Linked DNA regions of Homo sapiens: region 2 is linked to region 1. The links come from fine-mapping of genetic effects on gene expression. A gene starts in region 1. The other region holds a variant in brackets. All regions are shown on one strand. Distances are between the middles of the regions. Region 1 holds the start of PRDM8 (PR/SET domain 8). Region 2 has its middle 25 kb from the start of PRDM8-AS1.

Evidence for each region.
Region 2: its variant is fine-mapped to the expression of PRDM8 in fibroblasts (GTEx, PIP above 0.99).

The regions. Positions count from the first base shown.
Region 1 is chr4:80,192,469-80,203,358 of GRCh38, forward strand. PRDM8 (PR/SET domain 8) reads left to right here and starts at 5,035. Exons shown (of 4, transcript NM_001099403.2): 1 at 5,035-5,295; 2 at 7,611-7,831; 3 at 8,822-9,053; 4 at 9,446-10,890. The coding sequence starts at 7,613. It overlaps PRDM8-AS1 (PRDM8 antisense RNA 1), which reads right to left and starts at 4,876. Exons shown (of 6, transcript NR_183912.1): 1 at 4,660-4,876; 2 at 4,359-4,520. RefSeq lists enhancers at 3,645-4,262, 4,263-4,878, 8,356-9,555 and silencers at 9,918-9,997, 10,458-10,557.
Region 2 is chr4:80,166,488-80,177,377 of GRCh38, forward strand. No RefSeq gene overlaps it. Among named protein-coding and RNA genes, the nearest start is that of PRDM8-AS1, 25 kb to the right of the region's middle. The variant C/T (reference allele first, on the strand shown) is at 5,350.

The DNA.
Region 1 (10,890 bases):
ACACCAATTTGAGACTGCTAGACATCCCCTGATCTGCAGTCTGCCTAAAAATCCTGACCCAGAGGGTAAGGAGGTTCAGAGTGACTGATGGAGAACTGGCTACAACCAGTCAACCCCCTTCACACTGAGATGCGTTCAAAGGGTGTGGTGTCTGAGTCTAGGAAGGACTTTGGAACCTACAGATTTGACAAAAATCCAAGCCTTTTCTTGCCAGATCTTTACACACTCATCTGGGGAAGAGTATAACATTTGGGAGAACCCAGGGGGTTGAAATAGTGGATATTGGATTTGGTTCAGAGGTCACACTCACACAGATGAGTATGGGGCACTGATTTCATATCTGTTGGTAGTTGTGCACAATGTCACTTCGGTTTGCTAGCCCTTCTAAAAGTCATACTCAGAGGCCATTAAGCCAGTTCACTACAACCCAGATCCAGGAGAGGAAGATAATAACATACAGCTTTCAAAGACTATCCCATTCTCAGCTGAACTCCAACACAAGTGTAAGTAAAACTTGGGAATGGCTAAGAGAGAAAGTTTTAAACTTGAGAAAGGTAGATTATCATTGTAATGATAATGGTGGTAGTAGTAGCTGCAGGAGCAGCAGGATTAAAAGCAGGATCATTTACGAGGAAAAGCCCAAGAGAGAAAAGTATGAGTCAGAAGTAATGATCCCTACAGTTGGGAGCCTGAAGTCCTTCCTCACAGGCTACAAAATTACCCAACCCTGAGTCTCTGGCTTTCCCAGGGCCAGCCTGGAAAACATTTGCTCATGTAATACCCAGTGAGCCAACTACAATACTTAGGGTGAGGAACAGACCTAAACTGAGTTTGCAATGTATACTTATAAAAAACGAGTAGCCCTTCCCACACCCCACCCCCTCACATCATCCTTTACCCAACTCAGCAAGCATGGCTCTTCTCGACTCACCAAAATGTAAAACAAACAAACAAACCCCTCTGGGTCTTTTTAAAAACCCACCATGTATCTTTCTCTTGATAAAGGCAAAGTGGTAGAAAATGAGTTAACAACCCTCTGAACAACATTTTTGGCACAGGCCTGGTGTTTTTCTTAATTGACCAGCCCATCATTTCTGTTTCTCTTTCATGTACAAGTAGTCAGTAAAGTTTATCCCTTAAAAAGTTCCTTATTCTGAATGGTGAGGCTAGGTAATACAATACTCCTCCTTGAAGATCTATTCTCTTCCTCCCTCAACCCTCACAGCCCCTTCCAGAGACCTCCCTGTGGGAAATTAATAAGCTTAGGAAGGAGCTGCCACTGTCTGCTCCATTGGCATCCTCTTATCTTCCAGTGTGTGGGTTTTTTCCCCCCCTTTCACCATGAATTGCCATACTCTTTTGACAATCAAGCCTTTGCTGGCATAGTGCTTTGGCAATAGAGTTAGAGGTGGGTAAGCCAGGACCTAGAAAGATATAGAAAAAGAAAATCAGTGTGTTTTCATTCTCATGGGATAATAATCTTTACGTGAATTATTCTTGGAGATGTTACCTGCCTCTTATCACAGAAGTTGAAATATTTTGGGCTCCATTTTTGAACCCTGGGAAGAGAAAGAGTGTTCCCATTCTAATACTCCCTAAGAATTAAAATTCCCTTTCTTACCCTTTCTCCACCCTCTCACTTAGGTCATAAAAGCCACCTGGGGTGTCATTTATCAACCTCTCTCCAGCCCACTCTTCCAAAATAACACTACAGTTTCCTACATGTGTATTTTTGCCAGGACTCCAAAGAGCCTTGCTAAAGTGGAACAAGGTGAGCATACCCACTCTTCATTGTCATTCTTCTAATTACTTAATTGGAAATAAAATCCTAGGGAAGAGAGCTCCAAATATATGCATAAACCCATTGTTCCATATGAATTACATAAAACTATTGACTAGGTACACTTTTATAGTACTGTCTGAGGCTGAATAAATGCCTCAACCCTTCATTTAGTATCAGTGAATTCCAGTAAGTATTAATGCAGAGTGATTTCAAAGTAGTTTATGTACCATTTTAGCCCATAAATTTCTACAGAAATAAAAATAATTTGTAGATTTTCTTTATCCCCTATTAATTATTGTCATTTAGGACATTTATATTACCAAGCAAAATGTGTACCACTTAAATTACTAGAAAACTCTTCAAGTAAGAATTTCGACTTAATCTTACTTATATTGTTTTGTTATGTCAGTTATTTAACTCATAATAAAAAGGGTAGGTCAGATTCATAAAATGTGAGAAATTCTTATATTTAAGGATCTCTACCTGAAAGCAGTAGGAAAAAAATTAATTAGAGGGCAAAAAAGTGAAACTGAAATGAAGCATCTGTTGGCCAGATTCTCAATAAATTGCTCCCTTCTCAGATGTATAAAATTGTCGCTGTTTTCTAGCTTAAGACATAAAAAGGTCAAGCTGTTCCACCCTCAACTTAAGTACCAAAAACATTATTTTATACAAACTGGAGTCAAGGTTTTAGTACCTCAAAAGAAATATAGTTTAAATGGTCTCTGTATTTAATAAGAGAAAGGCCAGGCACAAGAAAAATGCCTTCCATTTAGAGTTTATTTTCTAAATGTCCACATTCTGGAGTAGAGGCTTACATATTTACAATATGTAAGATAATTTTTTAATGGTTTGCATGGACAGATGACTTTTCCTGAAAGATAAAATTCCAATTCTCTAAATAACAGCAAAAGAAAGCATTAAGGAGTGTTCTGTTAGACAGATTAATGAAATTATGTTCTTAAACACTGCTCCTCACACACCATATTGCATTTATCAGTCTAGTTTCTAAGGGACCACATGACTCTCTTATGGCTACTTTTCTTTCTTAACTTGAAGTTGTTTACACCCGTGCCTCTTCTGCTCTTTATTTTTCTTCTTTCTTCTACTCTGAATTAACTTAAGTTTCTGGCCACTATTCTTCAAACCTGAGGTTTATTTTCCAGATGTTTGAGACATTATTTTCACATTTCTAATGCTTCCACCCATTCTTTAAAGAAGTATTAGGGGACCATGTGTCCATACTTTGTGTGTGTGTGTGTGTGTGTGTTTGTGTGTGTGTAGAGAGAGAGAGAGACTGAGAAGTGAATCTAGTATTCAATGGAGCAATCAGTCAGAAGACAATTGGTAGCTCAGTATAGCTGCAGATTCTTACATACAGGCATGTGAGAGAGCCCTCATTGCACTGAGCCTTGGTCATTAGGAGCCAACCTTAGCCGAAGTAGATAAAATTGCACATAGCCAAAGTACATAAAACTGCACTTCAAGAAGCTTTCTTTGAAAAGTCAGTAGCTAACCTGAAAACTAAGGGATTCCCCATTTTCTCTGAATATATGGGGATTTTGCAGCCCTTCCTTCTGTGAATTTCAGCTTAATTCTAGGCAGCAATTCGGAATTTGCCTGGGGTACTAACCAGAAAAGAGAAGGAAATACACACACACACACACACACACACACAGAGAGAGAGAGAGAGAGAGAGAGAGAGAGAACAAGGAAGAACATGAACTTCATGGGAAAGTCCTTGCACTTGTTTCTCCTCAGCAAAATCCTCCCCTGGCCTCCTGGGACTGCAGTCACCAGGCTGTCAAAGCCTCAATACCCCACTGAGTTCCAGAGAAGGGTCTCAAAGCTGGGAGAGGATCAAACTAACATGGTAAGCTGCTCTTTGCCAACTCCCCAAATACATTATTTCAACACTAGGAAAAACAACAACGAGGCTGTCTCCTTACGTTGTGGTTCTGCCTCCTCCACTTTAGCTAGCTACACAATCCGATTTATCCTAATGCTGACAGATTGCCCACTTCAAAGTAGTGGTGGTGTGTGTGGGGCTGAAGGAGTTGAGAAACTGTCTATACCACTCAAAGGCCTTTCTTCCTTTAGGAGTAGAGAATTGAACTGTGAAAAAGAAGCCCGAGATTCCCCAGCGACGTGGTGTTGCAGCCCCGTTGAAGGAGTCAACTTGCAGGCTGTTAAAGACCTCAAGTCATTAGCATCAGCTGCTGCACTAAAGGGGCAAGTCAGCGCCTCTAAGTGGCTTAGCGCACAAACGAGGCTCCCGAGACGGCCTCGGCAACTCCATCCCCTCCTCCACCACCCGCTGGATGTGAAAAGCTTTCCGGAGCCCATCTTGGTAATCATTTTTATTTTTAATCACCCTTGCCCCCCAACCCCAAGACCTCAGAGTGCCAACAGTACCCATTATAGACTCCCTCTGGGGCTGCGCAGAACGCACCAAGCAGAGGGGGGGAAAAACCCCACGAAAACAAAAACAAACAAAAAAAAAACAGGAACTGTTTGAGTCCAGTAACCTGCGCTCTTCCCACCAACCTCCCACACCCCACCTCCGCCCACGTACCCGTGTCCTGGGACTAGGAGGTACCGTTATGTCCCCTTCCGAGGTCTGGTGACATTCTCACTCCAACCTCATCTCCCAAGCCACGGGAAGGCTGAGCCAAGTTCTCACCAAAGCGCATCCTTTCTGAATTTTGCAGGGGGAAGCTTGGTAGTGTTGGCGCTCCTGAAGAGAGACGACGCCCGTTTATCACCCCCAGGCAACTAGCTGCGCAAATCAGCGGTGGCTCCAGGGCTAGAGAATCCCTGGAGCTAACCGCACCCCTCTCCCTTTCACGGAACGCGGACTCCGGGGAAATACGCACGGGGTCCGCACGCGCTGGGTGTCCAGCTCTCTGTCACAGCTTCTCCAAGTGCCTAGTGAAACGGGGAAAGGCCCTCTCCAATCATTTTGGTACCTTCCTTTCCAATCCTGAAACGATTTTCCCCTCCTAGCAGTCCCAGAGGGCCCGAGCTTTAGGAGGAGGCGGGCCGGGACGCTCTCTGAGAGGCGTTGCCACCCGGGGTAGGCGCTCAGGATCTGCGGGGCGCGGGCAGGCCGGGGGAAAAAGCTGCGAGGCAGGCGGCGCCGGAGGGAGCGCCTGGCCCAGCAAAGAGTTAAAGGGAGGGGACGTGGGCTGTCACGCGTCATTGGGCAGATTATGTGCAGCAAACAAAAAGTGTGTGTCTGCGTGCCAGTCAGTCACTGCATCGGGTCCATCTGTACAACTCTCTCCGTTTCTCCGTCTCTCTCCCTCCCTCCCTCCCTCCACCCCCCCAATCTTTTTCTCCCCATCTCTCCATCTCTCTCTTATCTCTTCAGGAAGAGCCTAAAAGGCGGCAACACCAACACCTCTTGACATGGAAATACACTGATACAATAGGCAAAAGGAAACACTCGATTGCATCTTCCCGGTTCCAGGTGGCCTTATTTGGGAGATTCTATACTGACCTTATTCCTGGTAAGTCTATTTGCATTGATGTGGGAGGGGGATGGGAGGAAGACAGTTTGGTGGAAAGAGTAGAACATTTTGTCTTCCGTCTCCTTATTATCCAGAAGAGAGAGAAAAATAATTCTTGAGGGGCTGTCTACTGCCAGTAATATTGTACAAAAGGAGGAGCGGGTGGTGAGCACTTTGCCGGAGAAGCCGGAGACTGGGGAGCGCGCGGCCGCCAGACAATGCCTGCCTAGAGGGACGGGCCAGTGGCGGGCAGCAGCGACCGGCTTTCAGAAAGCCCCGCCGGCTCTGGGGTATATTCCCAGGGCAGGCGGATAAGAACCTGGGCCTAGAGCGGGGCACGGAGCTGTGAAACGTTGCGTGGCAAAGGCGACCGCACGCGGGCGGGCGCTCCTAGGCTCTTGCCCAGCGGTTATTGTGATGGGCTTGAGGCTCGTGGCGCCTGGCGCTGCGACTCCGACCGCTATTAGCGCGGCGTAGTGAGGACCTTTTTGCCGTATTGTTAGGTAGAACTGCATTTTAATGACTGTGTCCCTGCTGTTGCCCGAAGTGACGGGGCGACCTCCCGGCACAATGAAATGCTTGTGTGAAAGAGATTTTTAAAAGGAAGAGAGAAATTGGGGAATAAAACGCTGAATTGAAGGAAATTGAAAAGAGGAGAATAGGATTCCGTTGAAAAGGAGATAAGAGGTTATGGGGTTTTTAAAATGTATTTTAATTTGAAATGAAAAAATCAGGATGTCTACCTTGTATGGGGTAAAAATGACCAGGGATAGATGATGCAGAATAAAAAAGTTTCTACTTTATGGATATTTTCCCTTATTTCTGCTGTCTGGGAGATACAGCCCAACACTTGACATTTGGGGGATGCAAGAGGATGAATGGAAAATGAGGCTAACCAAAGTTTTAGGCTATGTTAGCTGGAATGGGGGGAAAAAAGCACACCTTGTAATCACACGTGTAAGGTTAACTGGTTAATATAAATTAAAATAAAAATAGATGTCACTGACATTATTCCATAATGAACAGCTTTGCAGGAAAAGAATTAGATCTACTCTTTCCTGCTACTTTAATTATATAAAACATACATAAATAATTGCCAACAGTGACATTATTAGGGAACAACAAACTTGGAGGAATATTTTGATTAGTCTGAAATACTAAGCAATGCAGCTAGTTCAAAGCTAGTTTAAAAATTTAAATACCTGGGTTTTTTTGGGTTTTTTTTTTTTTGTTTTTTTTTTTTTTTTTTTTTTTTAGTGATAAGTCTTGTATGGGGTGTCCAGAGGAAGGAAAATGTCCCTTTATGACACCTTAATAAAGGGCATTGGGGCATTACTTTCTAAATTGCTGCGGATTAAACAGCTGGGGAGCCCACTGAGGAGTGCTCAAGCAGGGCTGCCCCCTCTTGCCCAAAAAGGGTCATATGGGGTAGGGGGAGTGAAAATTTACCAGTCATTACACACAGTATTTCAGACTGGGGACACTTTAGGCCTGTCCTGTACCTGCTCACTTCATGAGCCACATGTGACTCAATCCACCCCCTTGTATAACAAGGTAACCGGGATTCACTCTCATCCATAAATAAGCACGTCCAGAAAAAAAAATTACCTCTGCTTGCTGCTTTTAATTAAAGCCTCAGAGGAACAGTGTTGGATTATGGTAATGAGCAGACATACGTCCCTTCTTGTAGGCTGCAGAGAAAGGTTAGCTGACACAGAATTAGTGGCCCTGACATTCCACTTGAAATCCATTCGCCATGCTCCGCTGTCTCCGCCTGCTCACTAACGCTGTTCCCCTCCTTGGAAGAAAAGAAAAAAATCAGCTCCCGGGCACCCAGTTCAATACATAGGCAGACAGGCACTTTCCCCCAAGGGTTAGAAGTTTCTTTCAGTAAGGGAAGTCTATAGGCTGGTTTAAAAAATTATATATATGTATATATATATATATGTGTGTGTGTGTGTGTGTGTGTGTGTGTACATATATATATAATTCTGCCTGGAACTTCACCTCTAAAACCTACCCAATCCAACATCAAGGTAATGCAAAAATTATCTAGTCTTTCCTAGCCCTTTCTTTTCTTTCTCCCAAGCAGTCAGCTCCAGATCTCCCACTATTCTAATTATTTTAACAAGTATCCCTTAGTTTTCATCTTTAAAATATGCCATGTTTATCTGCTTTAATTTTGAAATAAGAGCTATGCAAAAATCAGGCATGTGCAAGGAAAATCTACCTAGTATTTGGACAGTTCTGCTTGGGTTAATGGCGTTAAAAGCAGTAACATAACTCACTTTCTTGTGCTGTGTGTCTATCTCCAGTGATGGAGGATACTGGCATCCAGCGAGGCATCTGGGATGGAGATGCCAAGGCTGTCCAACAATGTCTGACAGATATTTTTACCAGCGTTTACACCACCTGCGACATCCCTGAGAATGCTATATTTGGTCCCTGTGTCCTGAGCCATACTTCCCTATATGACAGCATAGCTTTCATAGCTCTCAAGTCTACTGACAAGAGAACAGTACCGTATATCTTTCGGGTAAGTCTCCACTGTAGCTGTGTAGGTGTATGAGGGTAATGTCCTGTTGGAAATGGACTAAAAATAATTATAATGACAAGTGGAGATAGGTTTTGCCTGTGGAAAAATGCAATAATGCAAGCAATCCCATTTCACACATCAAAAATTAGAAAAGGAAAATTAAACTCAAATTATTGTCAACTGATTTTTTGGAATAAATGACAAAATTTGATTTGGAATGTTAGAAATATCTAAATCAGTGCTTCAGTTCTGGATTATCCTGGTGATGAACACGACTTCCTAAACTCTGGGAGATTTCACTGGGGTGGAGGCTATTTGCATACTAACTAGTTTCTGCAAGTTCTTTGACAAGTATTGGGTACATCTGCCTTCCATTTGAGGAGGCTTCTTCATCCCCTAAAGATTAGTTTCTTTGGTAATATTAGCTAGTGCCCAGAGTTTGTATTTAAATAAAAATGTTTATGGTTTTGACAGTAAAGCATCATCAAATCCATATGTCTGAATTGGAAGATTCAGACCTCTCATTTCCTATTCTTCTTTACAAAGAAAATCTATTAATTGTTCTAGCCAAGATTAGGAACATGATTGCCATAGCATAATTTCTAAGATCTAAGCTTGCTTTATTTCTGAAACAAACAAAATTCTCCATACCTTTGTAATGTGGAATAACTTAGAAGTAAACTCTCAAGGGGTTAACACTAAATTATAAGAAGAAATTTCCTCATTTAGTATTCAACCAATATATAAAAACGGTGACTTAAATAAACTATATGATTGATGCAGTGTTTCAAAGAATGGTTATCTTGCCTAATGGTTACAAACATGAGGACAGGTCCCAGCTTGGGCCAAACTTTTGGAAGCGTGGTCTCAGACAATTTTTGGAAAAGACTAACATAGAAGAAATGGTCTTGATTCTTCTGATTTCATTCCCTCATGAGGGTCCCTCTCCCCCTCTCCTTCTTGTCTTCTTTCATTTATTTCAAACCGCAGGTAGACACCTCAGCAGCAAATGGTTCCTCAGAAGGTCTCATGTGGCTGCGGTTGGTCCAATCGGCCAGAGATAAGGAAGAGCAGAACCTTGAAGCCTACATAAAAAACGGACAGCTGTTCTACCGCTCTCTCCGCAGGATTGCCAAAGACGAGGAGTTACTAGTTTGGTACGGGAAAGAACTGACTGAGTTACTCTTGCTCTGCCCCTCTAGATCCCACAACAAAATGAATGGTAGGTTGGCTCGCGACCGGCGTGTGGGCCCTTAACTAGCGGGGGAGAGACGCAGGGAGCGGCAGGGGCTCACCCGGCGCGTTGGCGCGCCTTTCTTCCCTTCGGGTGTCTCATAGGAAGATTCTGAGATGTAGTCTGGAATGAAGTTAAACAGATAGGTGAGGATAAAGCGAGGAAACTTGCTTGTTTGCTGTATTCCCTCCAAATCAGGAGGGAAAGTTAGATCAGGTTGGTCATTCTTTTCTCAGGCACTCAGGCCCTGAGAAATGAAGGTGGATTTGTCAAGGGGATGGTGGCAAACTGGCTTGGGGGCGATGCTGAGTAATCATGTGGTGTGCGTGTGTGTGTGTGTGTGCGTGCGTGCGTGTGTGTGGTGTTTGCTCACTAAGCAGGGTCGTCCCCTTACACATGCCTGGAATGCAGCCAACGTTTCCAGTTTGAGTTCCCCTATGTGGCGCATCTGCGTTTCCGCTGCCCCAAGAGACTTCACAGCGCTGATATAAGTCCCCAAGACGAACAAGGCGGCGGCGTGGGCACCAAGGACCACGGGGGCGGCGGCGGCGGTGGCAAAGACCAGCAGCAGCAGCAGCAGGAGGCACCTTTAGGCCCGGGTCCCAAGTTTTGCAAAGCCGGCCCCCTCCACCACTACCCATCCCCCTCCCCGGAAAGCAGCAACCCATCCGCTGCCGCCGGCGGCAGCAGCGCGAAGCCATCCACAGACTTCCACAACCTGGCCAGGGAGCTGGAAAACTCCCGGGGAGGCAGCAGCTGCTCCCCAGCCCAGAGCCTCAGCAGCGGTAGCGGCAGCGGCGGCGGCGGCGGCCACCAGGAGGCGGAGCTGAGTCCCGACGGCATCGCCACGGGCGGCGGCAAAGGAAAGAGGAAATTCCCGGAGGAGGCGGCGGAGGGCGGCGGTGGCGCTGGTCTGGTAGGGGGCCGGGGCCGCTTCGTAGAGCGGCCCCTCCCGGCCTCCAAGGAGGATCTGGTGTGCACACCGCAGCAGTACCGAGCCTCGGGCAGCTACTTCGGCCTGGAAGAGAACGGCCGCCTCTTCGCGCCGCCAAGTCCCGAGACGGGCGAGGCGAAGCGCAGCGCCTTCGTGGAGGTGAAGAAGGCTGCCCGCGCGGCCAGCCTGCAGGAGGAGGGGACAGCCGACGGCGCGGGAGTCGCCTCCGAGGACCAGGACGCTGGCGGCGGCGGCGGCTCCTCCACGCCCGCGGCCGCGTCACCGGTGGGCGCCGAGAAGCTGCTGGCCCCGCGGCCTGGGGGCCCGCTGCCCAGCCGGCTCGAGGGCGGCAGTCCTGCGAGGGGCAGCGCCTTCACTTCGGTGCCGCAGCTGGGCAGCGCGGGCAGCACCAGCGGTGGGGGCGGAACGGGCGCCGGGGCCGCAGGCGGCGCGGGCGGGGGCCAGGGCGCCGCGTCGGACGAGCGCAAAAGCGCCTTCTCGCAGCCAGCACGCTCTTTCTCGCAGCTGTCCCCGCTGGTGCTGGGCCAGAAGCTGGGCGCGCTCGAGCCATGCCACCCCGCCGACGGCGTGGGCCCCACCAGACTCTATCCCGCCGCCGCGGACCCTCTAGCGGTGAAGCTCCAGGGGGCCGCGGACCTGAACGGAGGTTGCGGGTCCCTGCCGAGCGGCGGCGGCGGCCTGCCTAAGCAGAGCCCCTTCCTGTACGCCACCGCCTTCTGGCCCAAGAGCTCCGCTGCCGCTGCAGCCGCGGCTGCGGCGGCGGCCGCGGGGCCCTTGCAGCTGCAGCTGCCCTCGGCGCTCACGCTGCTGCCGCCCTCCTTCACCTCGCTGTGTCTGCCCGCGCAGAACTGGTGCGCCAAGTGCAATGCC
Region 2 (10,890 bases), 26 kb before region 1:
AGTTGCATCAAAAAAAAATTTATGTATTTTCATTTTTCTTCATTTCAAAATATTTTCTAATTTCTCTCGAGATTTCTGCTTTGATACATGGGTTATTTCAATACGTGTTATTTAACTTCCAAGGGTCTAGAAATTTTCCTGTTAATTTTCTGATATTTGTTTCTTGTTTAATATCCACTGTGGTCAGAGAACATCTTCATATATTCCAAATATTTTAAATTTGTTAATTTTTTTTTATGTTCCAGGACACGTCTTATCTTGGTAAAGATTCCAATTGCATGTGGGAAAAAATGTATATTTTGCTGTTGTTTGGGGGAGTGTTCTATAAATGCCAATTAGATCCAGTTGTTCGATAGTGATACTTTTTTCTTCTATATCCTGCTTGATTTTTTGGTCTACTAGTTATTCTGTTACTGAGAAAATAGTATTGGAGTCTTCAATTATAATTGTATATTAGTCTATTTACCTTTTAACTTCCATTCCTTTTTGTTTTGTGTAACTTAATTACTATTACTAGGTGCATACAGATTGAAGATGGTTTTATCTTATTGATAATTTGACTCCTTTAACATTATATACTGACCCTTTTATTCCTGGTAGTTTTTTGGCTATAAAGTCTATATCAGTAATCAATATAGCCACTGCAGATATCTATTGATTAATGTTTTCAGGTGTTCATTTTTATCATTCTACTATTGACCTAATATTTTTTGATCAAATATATTTGAACACACTATTTTGTAGACAGCATAAATTTGTTTTGTGGTGGTTTTTTTTCCCTGTCTTTTCCATTGGTGTGTTTAGAACATTTTCATTTAATACAATTATTGAAAGTTTGCATTTAGAGCTACCATTTTATTATTTGTTTTTGTTCAGTGTATCTCATTTCTGTTCTCCTGTTTTCCCTTTCCTATTTTAGGTTAAGCATTTTTTAGTATTCTGGATTATATGGTAACTTTGTGTTTAACTTTTTGAGAAATTACCTACCATATCTTTGCCAACACTTATTATTATTTTTTTCTTACAACCATTCTAGTGTTGTGAAGTGGTAGCTAGTGATTTAGGTTTATCCATTGTTTTTTATTATATATTTTGTATAGCTTTTAAGCAATTGCACTAGGGCTTATAAGATAGCATGCTAGTTTTGCACAGTCTACGTAGAATAAGTATTTCACTACTTTAGGTAGACTATAGATACATTACCACCATATGTGTCTTTTTACCCTCCCTCCACATTAAAACCCCATCACAAAATATTATCTCACCTGCAATGTGTGCAGTTGTGATAAAATATACGTGCATAAAATTTACCATTTTAACACTTTTCCTTAAGTGTACAGCTCAGTGGCATTAACTACATTCACACTGTTGTGCAACCTTCACCACTATCCATCTCCAGAACTTTTTCGTTGTTTCAAACAGAAACTCTGTACCCACTAAATCATAACTCTCCTTTCCTCCTCACCCCACTGTTCTACTTTTGGCCTCTATGAATTTTACTAATCTAAATACTTCATACAAGTAGAATTATAAAATATTTGTCAGTTTGTACCTAGCTTATTTTCCTTAGTATAATGTTTTCAAGGTTCATTCTTGTTGTAGTGTGTGGCGGTATATCATTAGGTTTTATGGGTAAATATTATTCCATTGTATACATATAAGATATTCTGTTTATTCATTCATCAGTTGATGGATATTTGGGTTGTTTCCACTTTTTAGTTATGAATAGTGATCCTATGAGCATGGGCATACAAGTTTTTGTGCGAACATATCTTTTAAACTCCCTTGAATATGTTATCAAAGGATAGAATTTCTGGATCATATGATAACTTAACCTTCTGAAGAACTGTCACATCCTTGGCAACACTTGTTATTATCTGTCCTTTTTATTATAACCAATCTAGTATGTGTGAAATGATACCTCATTGTTGTTTTGATTTAAATTTCCCTCATTACTAATAATATTGAGCATCTTTTCAAGTGCCTATTAGTGATTTTTAAATCTTCTTTAGAGAAATGTCTATTTAAATCCTTTGCTCTTTCTTTAATTGCATCACTTTTTTATTATTGAGTAGCAAGGGCTCTTTCTATACTGTAGCTGTAAGACTCTTATCAAATATATGATTTGCAAGTTCTCAATGTTTTTGTTGCTTTTAATTTGAATATCATATTATAGAATTCTTTAGAAAATCCAAAATCATGAAGATTTTACCTCTATGTTTTCTTCTAAGAACATTCAGTTTTTAGGACTTCGATCCATTTTGAGTTAATTTTTGTGTATGGTATGAGGTAAGGGTTTAGCTTCATTCTTTTGCCTGTGGCTATCCAATTGTCCCAGCACAATTTGTGGGGATTATTCTTTCCCCATTAATGTTTTAGGACCCTGTGCACAAAATGAGTTGGCCATGGAGATATGGGTTTAGTTCTAGATTCTCAATTCTGTGCATTGTGTTATGGACTGAATTGTGTTTCCTGCCCCCCATATACATGTATTGAAGCCCTAACCCATCTGTATTTGGAGATACAGCCTTTAAGAAGGTAATGAAGATTAAATGAGGTCATAAAAGTAGGACCTGAACCCAATAGGACGGGTATCCTTAGAACAAGAGAAAGAAACACCACAAGTGCATGCTCACATAGGAGAAGACAGTGAAAAGGCAGCCATCTGCAACTCAGGAAGAAAGTTCATACCAGAAACCATTCCTGATGACACCTTGATCTTGGACTTTCAGCCTCAAGACCTGTGAGAGAATACATTTCTGTTGCTTAAGCCATCCAGTCTGTGATATTCTGCTATGGCACCTAAGCAAATAAATAAAAATGTTTGTCTTGTGCCAGTATCACTCTGTTATTATTACAATTGCTTTGTAGTAGGTTTTGAAACCAAGACATATAAGCTCTCCTTATTTATTATTTTCAGGTTTGTTTTGGTATTCTGAGTTCCTTGCAATTTCGCATTAAGTTTAGAGTCAGCCATCAATGTCAGCAAAGTCAGCTGGGTTTCCAATAAAAATTATGTTGAATCTGTAGATCAACATATTGCCATTTTAACAATATTAAGTCTTACTATCCATGACCATGGTATGTTTTTTCACTTATTTAATCTTCTGTAATTTCTTTTAACAATATTTTGTAGTATTCAGGGTATAAATTTTGCGTTTATTTTGTTAAATTTGCTCCTGTGGGTATTTTATTCTTTCTGATGCTAATATGAATGAAATTGTTTACTTAACTTATTTTCATATTGTTTATTGTAAGTGTATAGACATACAAATTATTCTTGCAGAGTGATTTTGTATCCTGCAAAACTGTTTAACTTAGTTATTAGTATAGCCACGCCAGCTTTCTTGTGGTTGTTGTTTGCTTGAATTTTTTTTTTTTTTTTTAGATAGGATCTCACTCAGTCACACAGTTTGGAGTGCAGTGGCACCATCTCAACTCACTGCAACCTCCACCTCCCAGGTTCAAGTGATTCTCATGCCCCAGCTCCCTAAATAGCTGAGACTGCAGGTGTGTGCCACGATGCCTGGCTAATTTTTGTACTTTTAGTACAGATGGGATTTCACCAAGTTGGTCAAGCTGGTGTCAAATTCCTGGCCTCAAGTGATCTGCCCACCTCAGCCTCCAAAGTGCTGGAATTACAGGCATGAGCCACTGCACCTGGTCTTTGATATTTTTAAATCCTTTTATTTTCAATCTATTTATGTCTTTGAATATAAAGTTTATCCTGAAGACAACATATAGTTAAAGCATGTTTTTAAATCAAGTCTGATAATCTCTGCTTTTTGATTTAATTGTTTAATTTACCCTGATAAGAAGTTTCTGTTGCATGTATTTCATCCAGTATACAATTTATACTTTTCCATTCTTTTGCATGCTCATAATTTGTTGTTAGAAACTGGACATTTTAGATAATATATCTTAGTAACTCTGGAAACTGGTACCCCGCCCCCCTCTAGGATTGCGATTATTATTTTCTTGTTTATTTGTTTAGTGAGTGCTGAGTTATTTTAGTTGAAGTCTATTCCCTGGCTTCCATTCCCTCACTTTTCAACATACACATCATGGTAAGCCTCTGATGCTCTCTGATCAGTGAGGCACAGTTCTGGGTATATCTAACAATTATCCTGGGATAGTAGTGGTACTGGTAAGATTCTCTCCCACCCTTTCGCTGATTACACCTAGCTGTTAAACTCTACTAATTTCTGGCCTATTGCTTAATTGTTTCCAACAGTGCCCTGGAACATAATTTTTTCTTTACAAATAAATCCAATTGGCCGGGCATGGTGGCTCATGCCTGTAATCCCAGCACTTTGGGAGGCCAAGGCGGGAGGATCATCTGAGGTCAGGAGTTTGGGACGAGCCTGGCCAACACGGTGAAACCCCGTCTCTACTAAAAATACAAAAATTAGCTGGGCATGGTGGCAGGTGCCTGTAATCCCAGCTACTCAGGAGGCTGAGGCAGGAGAATCGCTTGAACCCATGAGGCAGAGGTTGCAGTGAGCTGAGATTGTGCCATTGCACTCCAGCCTGGGAGACACAGTGAGACTCTGTCTCAAAAAAAAAAAAAAAAAAAAGATATACAAATAAATCTAATAATATTGTGACACTTTATATGGGAAAGTTTCTGAGATCAGTGTTTGCTATTTGTATTAACTCCAAGAGAGCTCCTGTCAGCTATCTTATTTCCCAGTTCTCTCTTACAAACTAGCTGGCCTACAGTCTAGGCTATATCTTCATTTGGTCCCAAAATTTCCTCTCAATTGCTTTTCACCACAACTTCTACTGTTCTTGAGAGTGCCCTTAAGTTTAAAATTATCTACACTTTGTTTGGAATAAAGTAAGATCCCTTGGGAAGAGATAAAGAGTTGCATGCTTTATGGCCTGATTCTCTCCCTAGGCAAAATTTCTGAGCTAGAGCACGGAGTTGGGGGTGGAAACAATGACAAGCTTCTCTCTGAGTAATACCCTGGCTCTAATTGCTGAATGCTTGGTGGATGGGGTGAGAGAGGAGTTTGCAGGTCTTTCAGCTTGCCACTCATGGTGTGGAAACTTTACTTCAAAGGCCAAGGAAAAGGCTCCCAAGGCTCCAGTATTCCTGTTAACAGCCCAATTGGTTCATCTTACCCACTGCCCAGAAAAGCCAATTCCCTGAAAATAGCAGATACTGCAGCAAAGAAAGAGTTTAAGTATTGAAAGCTCGGAGGCTAAGGATAATTTGGCAGGCAGGGGGTTAGGGACTAGGTCCTGCTGATTGGTTCAGGATGAAATCATAGGTGTATCCAAAATGTTCTTCATGTGCTGAGTCAGTTTCAGGGTAGGGGGTCACAGGATTGGTTAAGTCAGTTC[C/T]CTGGTATGAGTCACAGATCCAGGTGGCATCAACTGGTCAGCCAAAGTGCAAAAGTCTGAAAAATACCTCAAAGACCAATATTGGGTTTTGACAATACCGTTGGTATCTATAAGAGCAATTAAAGAACTTACAAATCTTGTCATCTTCGGAACTGTGGCTGGTTATCATTTAACTACATCTACATCTTACCAGAATTCATTCCCCACTCATAATCCTAAGCTTTTGGCCTTTCATTAGTCCTACAAAGGTGGTTTCAGTCCCCAGAGGGGGTCAGTTTTTGGGGGAGACTATTATCCTTTATTTAAAGTTAAACTATAAGCTAAATTCCTTCCACAATTAGCTTCGCCTACACCCAGGAATGAGCAAACACAGTTAGCTTGTTAAGTTAGAAGTATGGCAGTGTCAGCTAGGTTACATTTCTCTCACTGTCATAATTTTTGCAAAGGTAGTTTCATTCTCAATGCACCACACCCAAGGTAGAACTTCCTTTTTACAAGAAAGTGTTGGGTGGGAGAAGGAAGCTTCCTCCTCCCAGTTGTATTCACCTAAGACTTAGCCTTAGCAACAGACAGCTACGGGCAGGACCAAAAAAGCTCAAGTTATGTCCTATTGCAATGAAAGCCCTGCAGCTGACACCTAAGGAATATAAAGAGTCATATTCTTGGCTGCAGCGTCTGGAGTAGAGTCTCTGCCTCACTGAGCTGGGAGGGGCAAGGAAAGTAGTAGTTTCAGTTCAAATGTCACAGACTCACCTCTCTTGACAGATATTCATAATTTCCTCTAATAGGTATTTCTTTATTTACCATTTGCCCTTAGGACCATTTCCAGAGAATTTAAGTGGTTGTTTCTTTACACACAATTTTCACCAGTTTCACTGAGGAGTGGCTCAGCAGAGTTTCCCACACTGCCATTCTAGAAGTCAATCTATTTCACTTGTATTTATTGTTCAGCTATATATGTTACTTACAAGACTCTTCTTTGCTTTCCACTCCTAATTTTCTGTTTTCCTATAGCTAACTCTGTCTCTCTCCTTTGAAACACTGACTTCCAACTTTATATCAGTCCTCTCAAGTTTTCAAACTCTTAGTTTCTATGAGATTTAGAAATCGGGCTTTTGTTTGTGCTGATGTTTACAGTGAATATTCAAGACTCTGATATTGGCTATAATTTTTTTTTAGAGTTAAAGTCTTCCTTTGTTGCTCAGGCTGGATTGCAGTGGCACAATTTTAACTTACTGTGGCCTTGAACTCCCAGGCTCATGCAATTCTCCCACCTCAGCTTCCTCAGTAGCTGGGACTACAGGAACGTGCCACCACAATCAGATAATTTGATTTATTTATTTATTGCAGAGACAGAATATTGCTATGTTGCCCAACCTGATCCTGAGCTCTTGGTCGCAAGTTATCCTCCCAGCTCAGTCTCCTAAAGCACTGAGATTGCAGGCATGAGCCATGACAACCGGCCTTGAGTATAATTTTAATCTAAGGCTTCAGGAAAGAGAGCATGCTTCTCCACCACTGTCCTCTTCCATTTTTTTGTCTGTGGGTTAGTTCAGGTTCAGGAGGAAGAGACAGGGATGGCAAAGTTGGAAAGAGAAAATGTTACTTCATTCTAAAATCTACACAGTTTGTGAATTCAAGGGAAGCCATTAGTAGGAGTTCCTATTGCTGTGCAGCTGATTTGTTTTGAGGTAGTCACCCTTTGTTGAAGCCTGGCTGGCTTCCTTGAAAACAATCAGCAAGTGACTAACCAGGCATAGTAAGACTGGTGCTGACACAGGAAACCACCAAATGATGAGAGACCTGGGGATGCCCAAAGGAAGTCAATAAAAGCATACTCTCAAATTCTTCCAGATTTTGGCTTGCAAAGCCTCCCAAGACTTCTGGAAATCCTTCCTAAATGCTACTAGGAATGTTCCAGCCAAAGGGCTCTGAGAAATGATTCTTTAAAATCTTGGATGCTTAAGTTTACAAAACCCAGTAAGTTTTTACTTCCAGTTGAAACTGTGCATGAAAAAGATGTTTTCAGAAAGAGTTCTCAGATAATTCTATTTGTGAATAATAGTAGTAATGTAATGGTTATTCTCCATTTGTCTCTCCAAAATCCATTCTCTGTCCTCTCCTGGCTCTATATTGCCAGAGGCTGACTCATGCAGATTCGTTAGCATGCTCCAGAACCTTGCTGGTTAGTTAGCTTCCGGTTGAGTTAGGCCATTGGAAGGCATTAACATGAAATTGGAGCATGTGAGAAAAGAAAAGATGAGTTATTTCTTCCCTGTCCTCTCCTTGCTACACCATTGTCTCTGTGTCAGTAGCTGTTTCTGTAGGTCTCACACTGGGCCCTTCTTCCAAGGTTCTGGTCCTTAGCAGACTGTAGAAACACTAATTCCTCTCCTAAAATCTTCTTGTTATGCTGGTTTCTGTGTCCCTCACTCTCTCGTTTGTTCTCATCACCTGGTCCACATCTTTGTAGCACTCCCTTACCTGAGGATGGGGCAATTATTTCCAAGACCACCAGTGGATGGCTAAAATCACAGATAATACCAAATGCTGTATATACTATGTTTTCTCTGATACATACATACCTCTGAAAATAATTGATTTATAAATTAGACACTGCAAGAGATGAACAATAAGATAAAATAGAACACATATAACAATATACTGTGCACTCCCCTATATATACACATGTACATATATTATATATATACATATAAAGGGGAATTTGTTAAGTATTAACTTACACAATCACAAGGTGTCACAATAGGCTGTCTGCAAGCTGAGGAGCCAGGAGAGCTAGTCCAAGTCCCAAAACTGAAGAATTTTGAGTCTGATGATAGAGGGCAGGAACCATCCAGCATGGGAGAAAGATGTAGGCTGGGAGGCTGGGCCAGTCTCTCCTTTTCACATTTTTCTGCTTCCTTTATATTTGCTGGCAGCTGATTAGATTGTGCCCACCAGATTAAGGGTGGATCTGCTTTCCCCAGCCCACTGACTCAAATGTTAATCTCTACTGGCAACACCCTCACAGACACACCCAGGATCAATACTTTGTATCCTTCAATCCAGTCAAGTTGACACTCAGTATTAACTATCACAACTCCACCCCTTGTCAACTTGAACCCATATATATCTCCTGAGATCATACATAATCTTCAAATAAAGACAATAATAAGGTCATAATTACACTTAAAATAATACAACTATCTTTCGTACAACCGGAAATGCACCAATACCCCCATCCAAATACTATTACATAAAGTTAACAATACTTAAATGCTGATATGAAGTCAATTAATCTTATGTCACATGATAAAGGAAAAGGAAATAAAATGAGGATAATTTCTCAGTACAAGTGTATACATGCACAAACATGTTTTTAACAAAAGAAGGAGGAAATACTCATGACAGTTACAGTCCTCATTTCTGCAGCTGGTCAAGTGGTCATAGCTGGTATTTATGACTACCTTCTCCTACTGCCCATTCTGTATTCCCTTTACCTTCAGCAAGCACCTCAGCAGGTCATGTTTTTTTTCCTGGTGGAGTGACCCAAACCTTCCTTCCTGAGGGGTCTGGACCATTTGTAGTTCTGCCTGGATTGGGCTGTTGTACTTTCCCATTGACCTTAATCACAGGGCATGGTAATACTAAGAGACACCCTAATGGATCACCTGTATTCCGTGCATATTCTTTCCTTACCTCCGTTGTGGAGTAGTAGACTGATTTCATCTTGATAGTCTGGATCAATAACCCCAGCCAACACTATAACTCCCTTCTTAGTCTGTTGACTTAAAGGTAAGAGGACCCCAAAGTGTTCAGATGGAAATCTTAACTTCTAGTTTAATGGAATTGTTGTTGTGTCTCCTGGTGGCAGCGTTCCTCCCTCTGGAACTAAGACCTTTAGGTCTGCAGAACGTGAGGTTATGGGAACAGGAAGCAAAACTTTTGCTAGTGGATAACTAGAGGTGATGGTGAGTGGTGCCACTTCCACTTCCAGCTCTTGATTCCTGGACCTGTGAATCCTGGCTATGGGGGTAACAGAACCATATATTGGACACTGATTCAGAGCATACATGGCCTTCTAGAGAACTTTGCCCTAGCCCTGCAAAGTATTGTCACCTAGTTGGCATTGTAATTGTGACTTCAAAAGGCCATTCTAATATTCTATCAATCCAGCTGCTTCAGGATGTTGAGTAGCATGCTAAGTCCAGTGAATTCCATGAGCATGAGCCCACTGTCACACTTCTTTAGCTGTAAAGTGAGTGCCTTGGTCAGAGGCAATGCTGTGTGGCATATTGTGATGGTGGATAAGGCATTCAGTTAGTCCACAGATGGTAGTCTTGGCAGAAGCATTGCATGCAGTATAGGCAAACCCATATCCAGACTAAGTGTCTATTCCAGTGAGGACAAACCTCTGCTCTTTCTATGATGGAAGAGGTACAATATAATCAACCTGCCACCAGGTAGCTGGCTGATCACCCTGAGGAATGGAGCCATATTGAGAGCTCAGTGTTGGTCTCTGCTGCTGGTCAATTGGGCACTCAGCAGTGGCCACAGCCAGGTCAGCCTTGGTGAGTGGAAGTCCATGTTGCTGAGCCCATGTGTAACCTCCATCCCTGCCACCATGGAAACTTTCTTCATGGGCCCGTTGGGGCGATGAAAGGGGTGGCTGGGGAAAAAGGCTGAATGGTGTCCACAGAACAGGTAATCCTATCCACTTGGTTATTAAAATCTTCCTCTGCTGGAGTCACTCATTGCTGAGCACTCACATGGGATACAAATATCTTCATGGTTTTTGACCACTCAGAGAGGTCCTTCCATGTACCTCTTCCCCAAATTTCTTTGTCACCAGTTTTCCAATACGCTTCTTGCAAGTCCCTGACCATCCAGCCAAACCATTGGCTACAGCCCATGAATCAGTATATAATGGCACATCTGGCCATTTCTCCTTTCATGCAAAGTGCACAGCCAGGTGGCCTGCTCAAAGTTCTGCCCACTGGGAAGATTTTCCTTCACCCGCTGTCCTTCAGGGATGTCCTAGAAAGGGGCCGTAGTGCTGCAGCTGTCCACTTTCAGGTGGTGCCTGCATATCGTGCAGAACCATCTGTGAACCAGGCCCTTGTCTTCTCTTCCTCTGTCACCTGATCATAGGGAACTTCCCATAAGGCCATCGGTGCAGGCTGGGGAAGAGAAGGCAGGGTGGCAGGAGTGGAGACCATGAGCATTTGAGCCACTTCCTCATGTAACTTGCTTGTGTCTTCAGGACCCGCTTAAGGCTGATCAGATATATACCACCTACATTTGATGATGGAATGCTGCTGTGCAAAACCCACTTTGTGGCTGGATGGGTCAGAAAGCACCCAGTTCATGAAAGGCAGTTCAGGTTGCATGGTGACTTGGCCCATAGTCAAACATTCAGTTTCCACTAAAGCCCAGTAACAGGCCAAGAGCTGTCTCTCAAAAGGAGAGTAGTTATCTCCAGAAGATGACAGCAATGGAGGCCTAGAGGCCTCCACTGTGATTCACCTATGGGGGCCTGCC